4 linked regions of the Homo sapiens genome follow. The protein of the gene in region 1 purifies or fractionates together with the protein of each later gene. This does not show direct contact. Each region holds a gene or a part of one and is shown on either strand. Other genes may lie near its edges.

Region 1 (4,952 bases):
CTCCAGCCTGGTGACAGAGTGAGACTCCGTCTAAAAAAAAAAAAAAAAAAAAAAATCAGATTGCCTCGTAGATGCGCATGCTTTTCTCTCAAAGGCATCTCAAATCACTGTGTTTAAATCTGTACCAATTTTTCTTTGACTTCACTCTAGTCAGTGATTTTATATGTATGTATGTATACACACATATATATATACAGATATATATATATATCACATAGCACTATATTGTTATTATTTGTCTATTTTTCTGTCTCCTTCACTAGACTGGCCCTGTCCTCAAAATTGAGACCATGTGGCACTCTTTGTATCACATAACTGACACGAAGGCACTCGATTTCTTTTAGTTGACCTAAACCAATAGAAATTTTGGCTCTTGGGTCTAGATTTTAATATTGCTAGAAGTAATTTCTTTATTTATCATGATTACCATATTGATAGGCTCTAGTATTTTTAAAAAGTCGTATGTAAAAAGGAACAATTGTCATTTGTAGTATATTTTATAGATTGAATAAAATAACAGAACAGTGAACTTTTTTTTTAACCTTTTCTTTTAAGCGAGTAATTGTTACTGTGCAGTGGGGATAAGTATTTTCACAAATAGGTAAAAATCCTGCAGGTCTAGTTTAATACCCTTTATGTTTAAGTGAGTAAAATCTGTCTTCCCATTGAATTTGTAAACTTTGACATGGAGACGTCTTTGTTCCTAACTCTTTCCTTTAGGTTATTATCGCACTGAGAGAGATAAGGGCACACAGTATGAACTCTTTTTTAAGAAAGCAGACCTTACGGAATATAGACATGTGACCCTCTTCCGCCCTTTTGGACCTCTCATGAAAGTGAAGAGTGAGATGATTGACATCACTAGATCAATTATTAATATCATTGTGCCACTTGCTGAAAGAACTGAAGCATTTGTACAATTTATGCAGAACTTCAGGTAACTGTCAGGGCTTAATGATTAAGCTACATTCTCCTAAAAAAAATCACGTTTTACTCAGATTTCCTTAATTTATCTTCACCGATTATAATTACTTAGAATAATTTTACAGGCTTTAGGGGAACTTTATTTTTTTATATTCTCTCTTTTTTTAAAGCATGTGTAGTATATTGTGTTATAGACAATTTGAACTATGAAATAAATTAAGAGTGACACCTATTAGAAACTAAATTTGATGGCCTTGATAATTGTTTTGAATTCATTTTAAGACAAGTTGAATTTTTAAAAAATCAACTTTACTAAGGAATAATTTACATGCAGTAAAATCCACATATTTTAAGGATATAGGTATCATGACTCTTTTTTTATTTTTATTTTTTTTTTTGAGACAGGGTCTCACTCTATCACCCAGGCTAGAATGCAGTGGAGTGAGCACAGTTCACTGCAGCCTCAACCTCCTGGGCTCAAGTGATCCTCCTGCCTCAACCTCCCAAGTAGCTGGGACCACAGGTGCATGCCATCTTTTTTATTCTTTGTAGAGAGAAGGTCTTGCCATGTTGTCCAGGCTGGAATTTAATGTCTTTTGACAAACGTATACACTCACGAACCACCACCCCAATTAAGATACAGAATACTTGTGTCTCACAAGAAAATCCCCTTGAGAATGATTTGAGTTTTTTAATTGAAATACATTTAGACATACAAACATTAAACTAAAAATTGGAGAAAGTTATTTCAGCTTGCAAAGCAGAGAATTTGTAAAGTTTTTTTATGTTATCAAATTTGTATATTTTAAAATGCTGAAGTGTTAAATAATTATCTACACATTATGAAAACTATTTGTGGAAAATGCTTTTTGATTTAACAGTTTCCATGTTTCTAATACTTTAATATTTTTAATGTTTTAGATACTTTGATATACTGGTTTAATGCTTTGTGATCCTAGTCTTTATTCTCATATTGAAATTGTTGGATTTAAAAGGTTAATTAAAACTGGTCTGCAGCTGAATGTCTGGCAGTCATACTTCCAAGTGAGATTTACTGTTCCAAATAGCTCACTTGAGATCCGATTTCCTAAAGCATTTTTTTATTGCCTTTCTTGGAATTACTTTCAAAGGCCACATTATTATTTACAGTAAGTAATCTCAGTCATGGCAAATATTTATTCCTTAATGATAGTTACAATTTTTGGAATTAGCCAGTCTGAAGACAAAATAACTCTTAATCCAAAAGGTCAGTATTTATTTATGTGGTTCTGAACCAGTTGAGTTTATTTCCTTGAATAGCTTGTGATTTGCTTCTGAAAGCAATCCAAAAGCAAAAGTTCAAAAAATGTTTTGAAATAATGGCAGCAATGTCAGACTGCTTCCATGGCCCTCCAAGGGGTGCACTCATTCAGGCATAGACCTTGTGCCTTCCATAATTCATCAGTATTGCCACATTTATGTTTACTACTGTGTCAGTAATGCCTCATTTTCTTGTTAAAGCTTCATGTGGTTGCTTTCTTAATGAATAGTGCCTCATGTTTTCTTGAATAAACTTTTATTTTTCACTTCTGTTAGGGATGTTTGTATTCATCAAGACAAGAAGATTCATCTCACAGTGGTGTATTTTGGTAAAGAAGGACTGTCTAAAGTCAAGTCTATCCTAGAATCTGTCACCAGGTTGGTGAACCACATCTGCAGTGAAGGCCTTGATATATAACATTGCTAAAAGAGAATTTCAGATATGTAATGAGTTAATAATTTTTAGTAACTATTATTTAAAAATTGGCTGAGCATGTGGGCGGTGGTGGTGATGATAAGTTCCTCATTTCACATGCAACCCTACATGACTCAACTTCCCTTCACTGCTTAGCAAGCAGCCTGGCATGATGCTTTCTCTGTGGCCCACTCACCTTCTGTGTATTTGCTGCTGCTTTCCTTTTTTTAAAATCTAATTCCTTCACTTTGACATAATCATCTTCTGAATTTGTCTCTTTTTTGTCACCTTTCTTTCCTTCCATTTCCTCAGGCTCCTTCTTCTCCCCCTGCTAACAATGTTGAGGTCTCCCATATCCTTAAGAAACTCCCACTCAACTCTGAAGTGCCCAGCCACTACTGTTATGTTTCTGTCCTTTCACAGCTCAACATCACGAGACAGTAGTTCATAGCTAAGCAAGTCATATAGTACCTGGCACATAGTAGATGCTCAGAGGTTTGAATGGATGAATTAGTAATCCCTTAGTACTTAATTATTAATTCTTTAGCCTCTCAGCCTTTTTCTTTCTAAATCATGGGCCCAAAGATAACGACTTAACTGCCAAATTCTTTTCTGTTATTCTTTTTCATTGCTTTTTTACCTTTGACAACCTAACCAGTATTTCTGTCTTAAAATGTTCTTCTTGTGTTTGTAAAATGTAACTATTTTGTAAATGTAAGTATGATGTAATGTAAACTATTAGGTTGATTATCATCTCTAACCACACCAGCTCTATATCCTTTACTTGCTTCTTTACCTTTCTGCCAGTTGTGGCCATTTGCCAAGAGCCCAGATTTGATCAGCCATTCTTCTCAAATCATTCAACTCACATTCATTGAGTCCTGCCTACTGTGTTCCAGGTACACTGCTTGGGAGTTTGACTGGGGTAGTTGGAAGAAGAGTGGGCGTAGATGAGTGAATCTGAGTCCCTGACCTGCAGGGATTCTCAGAGCCTTGATGTATATAGACACAATTCACTGTCTTCCCCTTCCCTACACCAGCTCCTCCTCCTGATGGCCCTCTTTCAGTTCAGAGTAAAACCATTTTCACCATCTGGGCATGACTTCTGAGAGCCACAGTCTTTTACTTATTCTTTGCCTCCAGTTACCTCTAATTAGTTAGTTCCTACTTAATTCACAGGACCTCTTCTCTATCTCTTCCTTGCTACTGCCACCACCCTAACCCTGGTTCCCCCTCCCTCCATTTCTTCCCTTCCTGTCCCTCCTTAGTGTTTTTAGATCACCTACTAAGTGCCACAAGCTCACACTGGTAATACTGAAGTATTGTCAAGACACTTCTGTGGCAAATGGTGTAAACCTACCTTGAGCTTGCTTGAGGAAAATAGGAGCAGTATTGAAGAATCTCGGATACCTCCCAGAAATAAAGGGATTGTTACAACCAAATTTGGGGAAGAAAATCAAAACAACTCTTGTTTCTCAGGGATTGGAACCAGAGACTTGAATACCATCAAAATTCTCGTCTCCTTGTCTGTTTTTCTCTGCATGTTGACTTCATTCTCCTGTTGCAGATTGGCTTCTTCCACATGGTGAGGGATATGACTGTTGGCGGCTCTGGGCTCACATCTTCTCAGCTTTGCCATCAGAGAGGAAAGAGCTTTCTCCCAGCTCCAGTTGAGAAAATCCCAGGGAAGGACATTTTGCCCACTCTTGAGCCAATCACTATGGCCAGGTTGGGTGGGGGTATTGGGACTGGCCCAGCTTAAGCCTGGTCTCCACCCCTAGGAAATTACTGTGGTTGGGGTGGGCAGAGAGTGAGGGGTATTCTGTGATCAGTGCCTCCACTTGATGCTGAGTATGTGGGGTGGCAATGGGCAGTTTTCCCCCAACAGAGGAGAGATTTATATTCCTTAAGACGGGGAGAAGAGTCCTAGGCATTCAGAGCACTTGGAGTCCACTCCATGCACTATTTGAGCCTTTGTTCCATCTCTCCATTACCCATTCTGTACTGTTGTAAGTGTAATCCTCCTAAAATGTTACTTTTTTGATTAGGCTGCACCCTAGTGCAGTGAGTGATTCTCCAGCTTCAGTGCCAGAGTCACCAGGAGGACTTGTGAAAATGTAGAGGCTTCTCTCCAGCCCTAGCATCTGATTCAGTGGGTCTGGCTGTAGTCTGAGAGTTTGCTTCTCTAACATGTTAACACAGGAAGCTGATGCTGTGGGTTTGGGGGCCTCACTGTGAGAACCACTGCCCTAGCAGAAAAGTCCTGCTGATTCTCTTTGCCTTTAGGATACTGACCAATTTCTTTAACCTTGCA
Region 2 (4,952 bases), on another chromosome or scaffold:
ATCTCCAGGGACAGCTGGAAAGGGAGACTCAGACTTGGGGGGCTGTAAGTGCAGCGCTGCCTCCCGGGCTATGCTGTGGGTCCTGCGAGTGAAGCTGGCACGGCGGGATGCAGAGCCAGGAAGGGAGACTAGGGTGTTGTCCTTTGTCTCTCACTCTGTCGCCCAGGCAGGAGTGCAGTGGCCTCTGTCGCCCAGGAGGGAGTGCAGTGGCACCATCTCAGCTCAGCAACCTCCTCCTCCCAGGTTCAAGAGATTCTTCTGCCTCAGCCTGGCACGAGATTCTCCTGGCCACGCTGGATCTTTTTGGTCAGCCGGACAATACACTGCCCCCCCGCTGTGCACGCATGTGTATGTGTGTATGTGTTTGTGCACATGTGCTTAAGGCACTGAGAACTGTTTCCTGTCAGTTATTTGCAACTGACAGAGTCCTAACATACAAGGAAGTCAGTCACCTGCACCCTTCTCGTGAGTGACAGACTACTTGTGGCCCATCTTGCCACTGATGGTCGCTGCCTTGTGGTTGAGAGCAGCCATCCTAGGGCAGCCTGACTTCATACAGACACCAGAAACACACAAAAAGCCACAACACACAGGTGTAACTCCTTGACCACCTCTGTTCAAGGCTGACACGCAGAGTTGAAGGTGCTTCCGGCTGGGTGTGGTGGCTTCTGGCTGGGTGTGGTGGCTCCCGCCTGTAATCCTAGCACTTTGGGAGGCCAAGGCAGGTGGATCACTTGAGGTCAGGAGTTGGAGACCAGCGTGGCCAACATGGCAAAACCCCGTCTCTACTAAAAATACAAAAAATTAGTTGGGCGTGGTGGTGGGTGCCTATAATCTCAGCTACTCGGGAGGCTGAGGCACAGAAAATCACTTGAACACGGGAGGTGGAGGTTGTGGTGAGCCAAGATCGCACCACTGCACTCCAACCTGGGATACAGAGTGAAACTGTGTCTAAAACAAAACAAAACAAAAAGGCACTTCCTTCCCTAGGGCTGGACTCACTGTGGCACGTGTGTGTCATCCTCCACCGGGCACCAGGCCGCCACCTCACACGTCTTGACAGACCCGTTGAAAGCTACGCACCTGCCTGTTGAGACTCCTACAAGCACAAGGGTGGCAGGGGGGTCCCATGTCCACAGGGGTCTCCTATTTTCTACCTTTTTGGAGTAGGGAGTGAGAGCCCCATCCAGCCTCCCATGCAGCCAGTCTTGAGCTGTGCAAATCTGGGATTTAGACAGTGTCACTGTCCAGGAGTTAGAATCGGAGGAAGACAGTTACCTGTGTGCCAGCCACATCTCAGCCAGGGTGATGCCAAGCTAAAGAATGGGACAAGAGGCCAGGCACAGTGGGTCATGCCTGTAATCCTAGCACTTTGGGAGGCTGAGGCGGGTGGATCACCTGAGGTCAGGAGTTCGAGACCAGCCTGGCCAACATGGTAAAACCCATCTCTACCAAAAGTACAAAAATTAGCTGGGCGTGGTGGTGCATGCCTGTAATCCCAGCTACTCGGGAGGCTGAGGCAGGAGAATTGTTTGAAACTGGGAGGTGGAGGTTGCAGTGAGCCGAGATCATGCCATTGCACTCCAGTTTGGGTGACAGAGCGAGACTCTGGCTCAAAAAAACAAAAAAACAAAACAAAAAAAAAAACAAGAAAAAACAACAACAACAACAAAAAAAAAAACAGTAGGGCAAGAGCTGGGATGGCTTGTGGGGCTCCAATGACAGCAGTGAATGTAGAGGGGCTCCAGGACCCCAGCCTCGGCACCTGGCTCACCCAGGGTCATGTGAAGGAATTGGGAAGATTTCTCTATCAGAGACGCTCCACAGTGGGGGCGATCTGCTCAGGGGCCGCCCTCCCCAGGAGGCCACAAGCTCGTACCGTTGCTGTGGGTGCCGGCAGAGCCGGCAGTACAGCTGGCATCTGATTTACACACAGTGGTCGCATCTGGAATCTGGAAAAAGAAGGAGCGAAAAGAAAGTCCACGTGGCCCGGCCCCACACACAGGTGGACAGGCGTGGAGAGGGGTGTGGGGCCTGGGGCTCTTCCCGGGGGCCTCCTACCTCGGGGCACAGGCCCTGTGTCTGGTTCATGGTGAGGATCACGTTGGTCATGACGAAGAGGGAGTTTTCCTCCTGCAGAGGGGAGACAGCACGGGCAAGCCACGCTCAGAGGACTCACGGAGAGCCAAGAAAGGCAGACGCTGACTGAAGAGGACAACTCAAACACTGACCGCGTGCTCTCCCGCTCTCTCCCATCAAAGTTTATAACCCAATGGAAAACAGTGACTCAAACAAGTCCTTGTACATAAATATTCAGAGCAACACTTTTCACAAGAGCCAAAAGGTGGAAACAGGTCGGGCGCGGTGGCTCAAGCCTGTAATCCCAGCACTTTGGGAGGCTGAGGCGGGCGGATCACGAGGTCAGGAGTTCAAGACCAGCCTGGTCAACACAGTGAAACCCCCGTCTCTACTAAAAATACAAAAATTAGCCGGGTGTGATGGCGGGCACCTGTAGTCCCAGCTACTTGGGAGGCTGAGGCAGGAGAATTGCTTGAACCCGGGAGTCGGAGGTTGCAGCGAGCCGACATCGCGCCACTGCACTCCAGCCTGGATGACACGAGACTCTGTCTCAAAAAAAAAAAAAAAATGGTGGAAACAGCCCAAATGTCTGTCCTAGTCTAGTCACATGATGGAATGTGATTCAGCCATGAATAAAAAGGAATGAAGGGTCCAGGCATGGTGGCTCACACCTGTAATTCCAGCACTTTGGGAGGCTGAGGCAGGAGGATCACCTGAGGTCAAGAATTCCAGATTAGCCTGGCCAACATGGTGAAACTTTGTACTAAAAACACACACACACACACACACACACACACACAAACACACACAGACACACGCACACACAAAAGGAGCCGGGTGTGGTGGCGGGCACCTGTAATCCCAGCTACTCAGGGGGCTGAGCCAGGAGAATCACTGGAACCTGGGAGGTGGAGGTTGCAGTGAGCCGAGATCACGCCAGTGCACTCCAGCCTGGGTGACAGAGTGAGATTTCATCTCAAAAAATAAAATAAAGGAATAAAGCACTGATACAGGCTACAACATGGATGAACCCCAAAAACATGATGCTGAGTGAAAGAAGCCAGACACAAAGGCCACACAGGATACCATTACATTGATGTGAAATTTCCAGAACAGTCAAGTCCATAGAGACAAAGCACTTACGGGTTGCCAGGGAGTGAGAGAAGTGGGGAATGGGGAGTGGTTGTGTAACATACGAGGCTTCCCTTTGGGGTGATGGAAATGTTTTGAACTAGATAGAGGTGATGCTTGCATAACACTGTGAATGCACTAAATGTGCTGAATTTTTCATTTTAAAATGGTTAATTTCTTTCTTATTTATTTATTTATTTGAGACAGAGCCTTGCTCTGTCGCCCAGGCTGCAGGGCAGTGGCACGATCTTGGCTTACTGCAATCTCCGCCTCCTGGGTTCAAGCGATTCTCCAGCCTCACCCTCCTGAGTAGCTGGGACTACAGGTGTACATCACCACACCTGGCTAATTTTTGTATCTTTAGTAGAGATAGGATTTCACCATGTTGGCTAGGCTGGTCTCCAACTCCTGGCCTCAAGTGATCTACCTGCCTCAGCCTCCCAAAGTGCTGGGATTACAAGCATGAGCCACTGTGCCCGACTTAAAATGGTTAGTTTCTATAAGTGAATTTGACTGCAGTTAAAAAAAGGGGGGGGTCTGCAAACTGAAACAATGGTTTCTCAATCAAACTTGACTTACTGAGGGAAAGAGCCAACAAGTGCTAAAAACATTCCCTGCCAACCAGATTATCTCAGAGGAATAAAAACATGAGGCCTCATGGGGCTCAAATCTGGCTGGTTTTCTTTCCTAACTGAAATTATAAATCAAACATTCTAGAGAAGACTCGGTCAGGGTCAGCAAGTGACATTTCTCTTTGAAAAGGTTCTGTTTCCTCCTTATATGTATAAAGGTGCCAAATAATTGATTTAGAGTTTCTGGAAAGCAATTTGCTAGGGATGAGACTGAAGAATTGCTGATAATGACCTCCTCATATAAGGAATAAAAGGCAAAGACCCCAAAAGATTCTAGTTGGATCCTCCTCTCATTGGGGGCTGGTGTCCATCCATCTAATCTAATCTATCTATTATCTGTCTATCTATCTATCTATCTATCTATCTATCTATCTAATCTATCCTATATCTATCATCTGTTTTCTATTTATCGATTATCTATCACCTATCTAATCTATCCTATCATCTGTCATCTATCCTATCCCTTTTCTTTCTTTTCTCTTCTCTTTTCTTTCTTTCCCTTTCTTTCTCCTATCCTATCATTTATCTATTCTTTCTTTCTTTCCATCTATCTATCTATCTATCTATCTATCTATCTATCTATCTATCCATCCATCCATCCATCCATCCATCCATCCATCCATCCACCACCCATCCAATCAAGATGGGGTCTCACTATATTGCCCAGGCTGGTCTTGAATCCTGAGCTCAAGTGATCCTCCTGCCTTGGCCTCCAAAAGTGCTGGGACTACAGGCGTAAGCCACTGCGCCTGGCTGGGCCCAGGCATTTTAAAAGGAGATGCCCAAAGCTTTTAGCATTTCACACTCCTGAGGATAACAGTCAGTAGTGGGAGCCATCTTGGGGATCAGGGCAACTCAGAAACCAACCAGTCTGTAGACATCCCCAACCCCACGGTCTGACAAGTGGTGGAAGCTCTAGAAATAGCTGGCGTCCTCCAAAGGCCTAGGGCAAACTATGTTGGGAGACAAGGAGAAGGCCACAGGAGGAGGCGTGAGGATGTGGCATGAGCTGCAGCCTCTCTCCCGCCACCTGTCACGTTCCCAGGTGTTCAATGTACAAACACACTCTGCATTTGGTGTTAGAGAAGGCCGCTCCTACGACTCTCCTGA
Region 3 (4,952 bases), on another chromosome or scaffold:
CTGTCCTGCCGAAATGTCACCAATAGCTCTGGACAGCAACCACACAAAGCCTGGCACGCAGACCTTCCCTCCATGTCCCTGCCCACCACTCTACCACCCACAGCCTACACCTAGCCCCAAAGAGCTGGCCTTTCCCATCGCTCCTTCACTAACTCCTGCCATTTCATGTTGTAGGAAACCTGTAGTTGTCTCTGCCTCAAAAACACCTCTTCATCTTCCAAGACTCAGCTAGTGGGTAAAAAAAGGGTGGGAGTGTGGGTGAGACATTTCTTGATCCATCACCCACTGGGTGTAAGCCTCTTTCTTCTGCTCCCCCACAGTGATTAGTTCACGCACCCTGACAGCCCTCATCAACCAATACCATCGCTCGTTTCCTTCTGAGACAATGAACTCTGCAGAGACTAGGGCCCTGTATTTGGAATCTACTGTTAATAAAGAGCAGCTTAGTTAACAGACAGGGGAACGTGAAGCTGCCGGTGCAATGGAAACAGTCACGCACAATCCGCTATTGACAGCCACATCTATCCCTGGAATCAATCCGCTATTGACAGCCACAGCCATCCCTGGAAATCCCTGGAATATTGTTTGAGCGCTTCAAGATCTTGAACCTGACATAAAAAACTACACTCATTTTCAGAGCCACATGGTTCCCTAGTCTCCTACAGGAAATTCACGATCTGAAATGACTTGGTGCTCCAAAAGTTCACTTACAGGTTGATTATTTGGATTTTACATGGAAAAGCCTTCTGTATAAATGTTTGCCAAGTTGAATTCTATCTAAGAAAGTGAGGACTGCTCTGAACTGTTTCAAGATAAACATGGTTTACTTAGCTCAAGAAATAAGGAAATGAATTCAGATTTATAAGATAGGAGGATCTCATTAAGGTTGGTAGAGGAACAGTCCGTCTTCATTTAAGGCATTAGGAAGAGATCATTCACTGATAATAGTATCCTGAAATCAGATTCCTATATCTCTAGGTAATGCTTCTCAAACTTTCTTCCCACAGTCCCCTACAGACTGATGCTAATCTGTAATGGTGCCCTTGTTCAATCTTGGCGCAAAGAAGGGAAACCATCCACCTCTTTCTTCTGACAACATAAAAAAAGAACAAAACTATTCCCCATCTTCAGCCCAGAGAGGGTAAGAACCAAAACAAACAAAAGGTGTTGGATTAGCTCAAGGTTCTGGGCATAAAAATGGACGAATAAGCAAAATACGTGTGGCTTTTTTTTTTTTTTAATCAAAACGTTGATTAAAAAAATCTAAATAGCACAGAAACTCTCTCAGCAAGAAAAGGTAAGTGTAGCCAAGAAATGTTTGAAGCAGATGAATAACAAAGGGGAACTTGTCCACCGGATATTAAAATATTATTCAACCTCCAATAATTTCAATGGGTGGTACTGGCACAAGAACAGACAGAAAGTTCAACGGAACAAAACATGAAGTCCAGAAACATACCCAAGAATTCTGAGCATGACGAAGATGGCATTTCAAACTGGTAGGGAAATGAGAACTTAGTCAACGGTACATGGTGCTGCGACCACATACTATTTGGGGAAAAAATAAAGTTGAGATGATTTCTACCCTTTCTAGAATTAGGAAGGAAACGTTACCTTTAAAAATCTCTCCAGGGCAGTAACTGTGAACCTGGGGTAGAGAAAACTAAAATCAGAAAGGGAAAGACATAGACTGAACTACATGAACATTTCCCTTCCATATATCACAGAACATAACTAAAAAGAAAATGTTTAAATATGGGAAAAATACGAATTGCAGCTAGTAATGCAAGACACAAGAAACCCAGAGGTTCTGACAAGCTGTCCTTAATTTGCATAATAAATGACTTCAGAGGAATCACAGTACCATTTTAAAGCGAAATTACCTAGAACACACACTTGCAGATGAGTCAAAATAAATTATTTTATGTGTTAACTTACAGAACCCCAGCTACCCACCTCCTTTTCCTGCATAAACCCTCCAGTGGCTTTCTAATTCACTCAGAATGAAACTTTACAAGACTGGACACTAGCGAGCCCCTTCTTGGGGCTCTTCTTTTACTGGCCTTCTTGGCTTTCTTTCTTTTACTGGCCTTCTTGGTGTTCCTTTCCAAGCCGGTCCCTGCCTTGGGACTTCCCGGTGCTTCCTTGGCCCTCATGCTCATCAATGATATTCACACAACTGGCTCTTCATGATCAAATCTCAGCCCAAATGGCACTCTCTCCAAACTCTTCCCTAATCACCTAACACAGAGAGGACACACTTGCCCTGCCCCAACCCTGTTCTATTTTCTCTACAGCATCCATCACTAGCAGAAACCCTCTTTTTAGTGTCGTCCCTCTGACTAAAGAACATGACAGCAAGCCGTGTACTGCAGTGTCCCCCAGGACTCAGGGTCGGGGGCCAGAGGGGCCATGCATGCATGTGCTTTACAAAGAAATGGATCCTAAGTAACGAATCAGGATCACTCCTATTAACTCCACAGCTACTGTGTCACTCAGGGCCTCCAAAGCTCAGCCCTGGCTGGTCTCTCACCTGCTACATTTTGAGTTTTGTCTCGCCTGCTTTGAAAAATCTGTTTCTTGTCTGCTATCAGCTGTCACTGCCCTGCTATATCTTGGTGGCCCCCATCCATCCCTCAAGCAGATGGCAGGTCTAGAAAGTAAAAATGTGTAATGATGGAGATGTTCTATCATCAAAGTGCTGTGCCTTTAGTGTGGACGGGCATATCTCCTTGGATTTTCAAAAGCTTTTTTAGCCCCTTTCTGGATCTCAGAGTTGTTGGAATGAAGAGGTTGCTAGCTACTAGTCCCTTCACCTAAATTCTGACATTTTCAGTATTCTACACCAAAGTATCATCTTACTGAAAGTGCTGGCATCTCCTTCATCTATAAGCCAAACAACAGTTGTTTTTTTGTTTTTTTTAAAAAACAAAACTACAGTTTTCGATAAGATGAAGAATGAATTTACCTTTCAGGAGAAATGTAAAGCTCAGCACATCGATTTCCAAACTAGAGTTCTACCTTGTGCTAGAAGAGTCAAGCTTACTTTTATACTGAACTGTGCATGGAATTTCCAATTTAAGAGCTCAGTGTGGACTTTTGGTCTGGGCTGCAAAGCACAGTAAAACTGGAATCATATGTTATACCCTATAACCTCCATCCCAATTGAGGCCCTCCCCAAAAGTTCCTTAACTTTTAGCCTTAAGGCTAAAATCGTCTTGTGCCAACTCCTGCAGTCAGTCTAAACACAGGGTTGGCAGGCAAGAGGCAAAGGACCCTAACTGGCAGGGCAGGTCCACCTCCAGGCTCCATGCACTCTGACTTCTTAAGATCTGAGAGATAAAAGGAAACTTCTGTGAGAGAGCTGGAGTGACATTAGCTGGACACTATCTCCTGGTAGGCGTTTTCCTTTCTCAGAAAGGCAGAGGTGTCAAAAGAAAGGGAGAACCCCGCCTGGGGGCAAACTGTGTTTCTGCTTTCCCCTAACCACCTGAAAAAAAAATAATAAATAAACAATGAGATTAAGTCTTACATCCAGAAAAAGATGAGGGAAGAGATGTGGAAAGGAGGCCAAAAGTAAGAGCGTTAAGCTCGAGTTTGGAAAACCATCTCCAAGTGTGAAACAGTAGTTCTAGTTTGCATTACATTTTCTTTTACTTATTTTCTTTTTTTTGAGACGGAGTCTTGCTCTGCCCCCCAGGATGGAGCGCAGTGACGCAATCTCGGGTCACAGCAACCTCTGCCTCCTGGGTTTACGCCATTCTCCTGCCTCAGCCTCCCGAGTAGCTGGGACTACAGGCACCTGCCACCAAGCCTGGCTAATTTTTTTTTTTTTTTTTTTTTTTGCATTTTCAGTAGAGATGGGGTTTCACCGTGTTAGCCAGGATGGTCTTGATCTCCTGACCTCATGATCCGCCCGCCTCGGCCTCCCAAAGTGCTGGGATGACAGGCGTGAGCCACCGCGCCCGGCCTGCATTACATTTTCTGAGTATTGCTGGTGCATTAGGCCCCCCACTGATTTGAATATATTGATACCGTAACCATGAAAATGTATTTGGTTCAGGGGGCATGGGGGAGATAAGGGAGTTACCTAATTTACTGTTTGTACTAACTGGTTTGTTAACTGTCCCCAAAACTGTGATTTCACATGGTCTATCACCACACTAGAGTCATGCGGATTTACTTTCAAAACCATGCTGTAAATAATCTATATGGCTCATCCTCGATTTCCGATACGGCTGTTTCTCTGGTCAAAAAAAAAAAAAAAATCCCATAAAACCTCAGGTAATGCAAGGTAGATCTGGGAGAGATCCTGATAGGCTGGTTCCCAAATCACTGCACTAGTCTATGTATCTCTATCTATCGATCGATAGATAGAATTTTTTTTTTTTTTTTTTTTTGAGATGGAGTCTCACTCTGTAGCCCAGGCTGGAGTGCAGTGGCATGATCTTGGCTCATTGCAACCTCCGCCTCCTGGGTTCAAGCGATTCTCCTGCCTCAGCCTCCTGAGTGGCTGGGACTACAGGTGCACGCCACCACACCCGGCTAATTTTTGTACTCTTGAGTAGAGACGGGGTTTCACCATATTGGTCAGGCTGGTGTCGAACTCCTGACCTCAGGCGATCCGCCCGCCTCGGCCTCCCAAAGTGCTAGAATTACAGGCGTGAGCCACGGCGCCCCGCCTGCATTAGTCTGTATTTACAATACCTGCATTCTAAGCTTTTCAAGCCACTCAGGACCCTTCCTGGCGGAATGTGGGTTCTGGACTTAAGCAGGACCCTAATGGAAATGTGCAGGAATGGGGATCAAGCCATTCAAGGGGCAGTCACTGAAGACCACTTTCACCTTCTTTCTCAGTCCTTTACTTTCTCCCTTAAAGGCAAGGGAGACCATATATGCTTTTCCCCTCACAACATCTAGTGCCTGAAAAATCTGACCAAGACTGCATTTAA
Region 4 (4,952 bases), on another chromosome or scaffold:
CTTGAGGTGAGGAGTTCAAGACCAGCCTGGCCAACAGGGTGAAACCCCGTCTCTACCAAAAAAATACAAAAATTAGCTGGGCATGGTAGTAGGCACCTGTAATCCCAGCTACTCAGGAGGCTGAGGCAGGAGAATCACTTGAACCGAGGAGGCAGGGGTTGCAGTGAGCCAAGATCATACCACTGCACTCCAGCCTGGGCGACAGAAGGAAACTCCATCTCAAAAAAAAAAAAAAAAAAAATGCCTTGAGGGCTTAAAATGGCAGACAGGGTATCAGGAGGCCTCAGACAACCTCCAATATCCTAGAAACACAGAGCTGGAAGGGCTCTTGGAGCGTGTCAAAAAAAAAAAAAAATTGTGCCATGCGCGATGGCTCACACCTGTAATCCCAGCACTTTGGGAGGCCAAGGCAGGCGGAGTTCGAGACCAGCCTGGCCAATATGGTGAAACCCTGTCTCTACTAAAAATACAAAAATTAGCTGGGCGTGGTGGCATGCGACTGTAATCCCAGCTACTTGGGAGGCTGAGGCAGAAGAATAGCTTGAACCCAGGAGACGGAGGTTGCAAGGAACCAAGATCATGCCATTGCACTCCAGCCTGGGCGACAAGAGCGAGACTTCGTCTCAAAAAAAAAAAATTGTTTTTAAAGCAATGGAACTGCTTATTCAGGTGGCACGAGGCAGGCCTAAGGCATCCTCAGATCCCCTGAAAAGCCGCACTTACGTGACAATGGGGAGTAGGGGGAACCACAGTGACTGGGAGAGTCCAGGCCACCTAAGGGGCAGCTTCAGGCCACTCCAGTTTGGCCTAAGCTCCTGGGTTTCCAAGAGAAATGAGAAATCAGAATTTTTCTCTAGAAATGTTTGAATGTTGACTCAATTTTAAAAACACACACGTAGCATGGGAGCTCAACAAAAAACATGCAGCAGGGTGAACTCACCCATTTAACATGTACGGAAACTGGGGCTCAGAGAGGGGAAGCTCCTTGCCCAATGTCACACAGCAATTTGGAGGAAGAGTTGGGACTTGGCTGCTTCCAAGCTCTGCTGTGCATGAGAGTGTGGGAGTGGGAGGAACAGAGCGAGTAGGGAGGAGTGGGTGGGAATCTGGACTTTACAGGCCAAGAGCCCTGCATGTTCTGATCATCAGGGAAGGAGTGTGGACAGAGGGATGGAGAGCGGATCAATATTTATTCAGAATAGTTATAACAACACCTGATGTTTTCTGTGTGTTTTCTATGTGCTAGGCCTTAAGATGGGATATCAAGGAGGAGTAAGAATGAGAATTCAGAGTGTAGAGTCTGGGCTGGGTGTGGTGGCTCACGCCTGTAACCCCAGCACTTGAGAGGCCAAGGTGGGATGATCGCTTGAGCCCAGAAGTTCAAGGTTATAGTGAGCTATGATTGTGCCACAGCACTCCAGCCTAGGCAACAGAGCAAGACCCTGTCTCAAAACAAACAAACAAAAAAACCCAAAACAAAAAAAAAAGAAAGATTCTGGATCCAAATCCTATGTCTCCCACTTCCTAGCTGGGTGACCTTGTGCAAATTACTTCACCTCTCTGAGCCTCAGCCTGTTCACATCATATGGCTGTTGGGGGAATTAAATGAGTTAAACCACATACAGTGCCTAGAACAGTGTCTGGCACCCAGTAAGCCCTGTTGATATTGGCTGTATTTATAATTGTTGCCTTTTGACAGACGGAGGAACTAAGGTTCACAAACGAACATGTTCAAAATTCCAAAGAGCCTGTTTAACCCCAGGGCCTCAGCTTTTGCCTGGTACCAAGATAAGTGCTTTACCACCATTCCCTTCCATCCAGCACCCCTGGAAGATAGGTCCTACTTATACCTGCATTCAACAGATGAGAAAACCAAAGCATAGAGAAACAGCCAACAGCCCCAGAAAGATGTGGAGCACCTGGATTCTAATACAGGCCAGTGCCCCCTAGCTCCCTATCACACTGCCTGCTTTCTGGGCTGCCTGCCTGCTTTCTGGCTGCAGAAGCCCCAGTCAAAAGTCTTACTGATACAAAGTCACTCGGCAGACGGGCTGGCTGCCCGCCATCTGAGCACATAGGATAAGAAGTTTCTCCCTGGGCCATCAGCCCCAGACGTTCCCTAGGGCCTGTGGGCACTGCCTCTGAGGTCCTTCCCTGCAATTTCTGGGGGCTGGCCAAGATCTCAAGCAGCTCTGAATGAATCATTCCCACAAATCCTCCTCTGGCTGCAGTAAAGGGTGGGGGAGACCTGAGAAGTGACGGGAGGGGACAGTCATCCCAGATCTCTGGAGGGGCCCCAGACCGGGTACATGCAGGTCCTCAGAGGGCACGGGGACTTGCAAGCAATCGGAATAGGCAGCAAGTCGGGGAGCAGGAGCTGCTGCTACCCAGAGAAGCTTCCCTGGTGCCACGTGGGGCATCAAAGCCACACAAGCCACATGCATTTTTCCAAGAAAGTACATTCTGGTCACCAACCCCAGGCTGTGAAGCTACATCTGATCTGCCACTCTTACTACAAATACACCCACAAAGTCACATCAATAATACATTTCAGGCCAGGCGTGGTGGCTCACACCTGTAATCCTAGCACTTTGAGAGGCCGAGGCGGGCGGATCACAAGGTCAGGAGATCGAGACCATCCTGGCTAACACGGGGAAACCCTGTCTCCACTAAAAATACAAAAAAATTAGTCAGGCATATGCCTGTAGTTCCAGCTACTCGGGAGGCTGAGGCAGGAGAATGGCGTGAACCCGGGAGGTAGAGCTTGGAGTGAGCCGAGATCACGCCACTGCACTCCAGCCTGGACAACACAGCGAAACTCCGTCTCAAAAATAATAATAATAATAATCATAATAATACATTTCAACAGCCTAACCGATCCCAAGGCACCACCACATCTTAGTTCTGAATGGTCTATGCCCATTCCTCAGTAGGGTACACTGACACCCAGAGAGCGGCAGTTCCTTGCCTAGGGAGCCTTCCCACCCCGTCTCCATGTCCCTAGGCTGCTTTCTTTCTTTCTTTTTTTAATATTTAATTGATTTTTATGTACTGACCTAATACCCTACAATCTCGCCCTGTTGCCCAGGCTGGAGTGCAGTGGTGCAATCTCAGCTCTCTGCAACCTCTACTCAAGCGATCCTTCCACCTCAGCCTCCCGGCTATCTGGGAATACAGGCGCGCACCACCACGCCTGGCTAATTTTTGTATTTTTTGTAGAGATGGAGTTTCACTATGTTATTCAGGCTGGTCTCAAACTCCTAGGTTCAACCAATCCATCCACCTCAGCCTCCAAAAGTGCTGGGATTACAAGCATGAGCCATGCACCCGGCCTAGGCTGCTTTCTTAATGCACAGGAACTCAGGATTTTAAAAGGACAAGGAAAGGCAAGTATGCAAAAAAGAATAAAGTCACGAGGTGCCAGATACAGCGGCTGGGAGGCGTGGTCTTAACACCATTCCCAAACAGCAGCTGCCCAGATGAACCAAGTTGTCAGGAAACTGGAACACGCAGATAAGTGCTGGTCTAAGTTCCTGAACCAGCAGAGTACAGGTTCAAGCTGGGGTGAACTACCTACCTTCTCAAGGAACTCTTCCTCTGTGAAAACGCTGGGTTCTGACCTGAGTTCTTCCGGTGCAGCCTCTTGCTGAAGCAAAGAGTGTGAAGGAAGAAACACAGGGTCCTAGGGGTGGGGAAGGTGCTGAGAGGAGGGGGAAGATGTCTGTGTGTGCAGAATGTTCACAGATGAAGCGTCTGTAACTCAGGACTGCTCATCTCAGGCCTGGGGGGTGGCCCCTCTTGAAATAAGCAGCAACTCACATAGGACACTCCGGTGGCCACCCAGAGAAGTCACCTTCAGAGTAGCGTGGGGGGTTCCAGATAGGGTGTGGGCAGGACCAGACTTAATTTTGGGGTCAAGGGACAAGTCTTCCCCTTCAGTTATGGTCTAGGAGAGCCATGGAGGGTCTCCCTGGCCTCCACAAAGCCTCAGCTGGCAAGGGGGCTCCAGGCTGGCCCGGGATGGGAAGATCCGAGCAGCTTCCACCTTCCTTTCACCCCCTCCTAATACTGTGTGCCAGCTCCTGGGGTGGGCTCTGTAAGCCACTGGGTCCTACACTGCCTCTCCTTGCTTCGGTATTTTCACAGAGTCTTGCTCTGTCACTTAGACCGGAGTGCAGTGGTGTGATTGATCTTGGCTTACTGCAACCTCTGCCTCCTGGGTTCAAGCGATTCCCCTGCCTCAGCCTCCCAAGTAGCTGGGGTTACAGGCACGCACCACCACACCTGGCTAATTTTTGTATTTTTAGTAGAGACGGGGTTTCACCATATTGGATAGGCTGGTCTCGAACTCCTGACCTCAGGTGACCTGCCCACCTTAGCTCCCAAAGTGCTGGGATTACAGGTGTGAGCCTCCGTGCCCGGCCTGAAAATAGTTTACAACTAACACATCAAAGCCAGTGATTTCAAGGGTTATGACTGCTTCAGAGAACACTAAATGTATTTAAGATTATTGGAACCCTCATACACTGGTGGTAGGAATATAAAATGGTACAGCTGTTCTGGAAAAATAGTCTGGCAGGTCCTCAACAGGTTAAACCTGGGTGCAGTGGCTCACACCTATAATCCCAGCACTTTGGGAGCCTGAGGTAGGAGGATCGCTTGAGACCAGGAGTTCAAGACCAGCCTGGGCAACATAGTGGGACCCCTATCTCTACAAAATAAATAAATAATAAAATAAATTAAAAAAATATTTAAAGGTGAAACCTAAAGTTACCTTACGACCCAATCATTCCACTCCTAGAAATATACCTGAGAGAACTGAAAATGTATGTCCAAAGACCTGTACATGAATGTTCATAGCAGTATTATTCATAATAGTCAAAAGTTAGAAACAACCCAAACATCCATCAGCTGACAAATGGATAGAATGTGGTATATCCACATAATAGAAT

What was found. The genes of interacting proteins can lie anywhere in the genome.
Region 2: the proteins of CSGALNACT2 (region 1) and P2RX4 purify together in Homo sapiens (co-immunoprecipitation; 3 studies listed by BioGRID and IntAct, with this or other methods). This does not show direct contact.
Region 3: the proteins of CSGALNACT2 (region 1) and CHSY1 purify together in Homo sapiens (co-immunoprecipitation; 3 studies listed by BioGRID and IntAct, with this or other methods). This does not show direct contact.
Region 4: the proteins of CSGALNACT2 (region 1) and TPST2 purify together in Homo sapiens (co-immunoprecipitation; 3 studies listed by BioGRID and IntAct, with this or other methods). This does not show direct contact.

Annotation. Positions count from the first base shown.
Region 1 is NC_000010.11:43,157,995-43,162,946, forward strand, and holds part of CSGALNACT2 (chondroitin sulfate N-acetylgalactosaminyltransferase 2), read left to right. Parts: intron 1-720; coding exon 721-937; intron 938-1,329; coding exon of another isoform or gene 1,330-1,354; exon of another isoform or gene 1,355-1,370; intron 1,371-2,499; coding exon 2,500-2,601; intron 2,602-4,205; exon of another isoform or gene 4,206-4,366; intron 4,367-4,952. UniProt on the Homo sapiens protein: Transfers 1,4-N-acetylgalactosamine (GalNAc) from UDP-GalNAc to the non-reducing end of glucuronic acid (GlcUA). Required for addition of the first GalNAc to the core tetrasaccharide linker and for elongation of chondroitin chains.
Region 2 is NC_000012.12:121,219,094-121,224,045, reverse strand, and holds part of P2RX4 (P2X purinoceptor 4), read right to left. Parts: intron 2,134-4,952; coding exon 2,062-2,133; intron 1,953-2,061; coding exon 1,880-1,952; intron 1,317-1,879; exon of another isoform or gene 1,279-1,316; intron 1,100-1,278; coding exon 1,003-1,099; intron 1-1,002. UniProt on the Homo sapiens protein: ATP-gated nonselective transmembrane cation channel permeable to potassium, sodium and calcium. CTP, but not GTP or UTP, functions as a weak affinity agonist for P2RX4.
Region 3 is NC_000015.10:101,245,132-101,250,083, forward strand, and holds part of CHSY1 (chondroitin sulfate synthase 1), read right to left. Parts: intron 1-4,952. UniProt on the Homo sapiens protein: Has both beta-1,3-glucuronic acid and beta-1,4-N-acetylgalactosamine transferase activity. Transfers glucuronic acid (GlcUA) from UDP-GlcUA and N-acetylgalactosamine (GalNAc) from UDP-GalNAc to the non-reducing end of the elongating chondroitin polymer.
Region 4 is NC_000022.11:26,583,216-26,588,167, forward strand, and holds part of TPST2 (protein-tyrosine sulfotransferase 2), read right to left. Parts: intron 1-4,952. UniProt on the Homo sapiens protein: Catalyzes the O-sulfation of tyrosine residues within acidic motifs of polypeptides, using 3'-phosphoadenylyl sulfate (PAPS) as cosubstrate.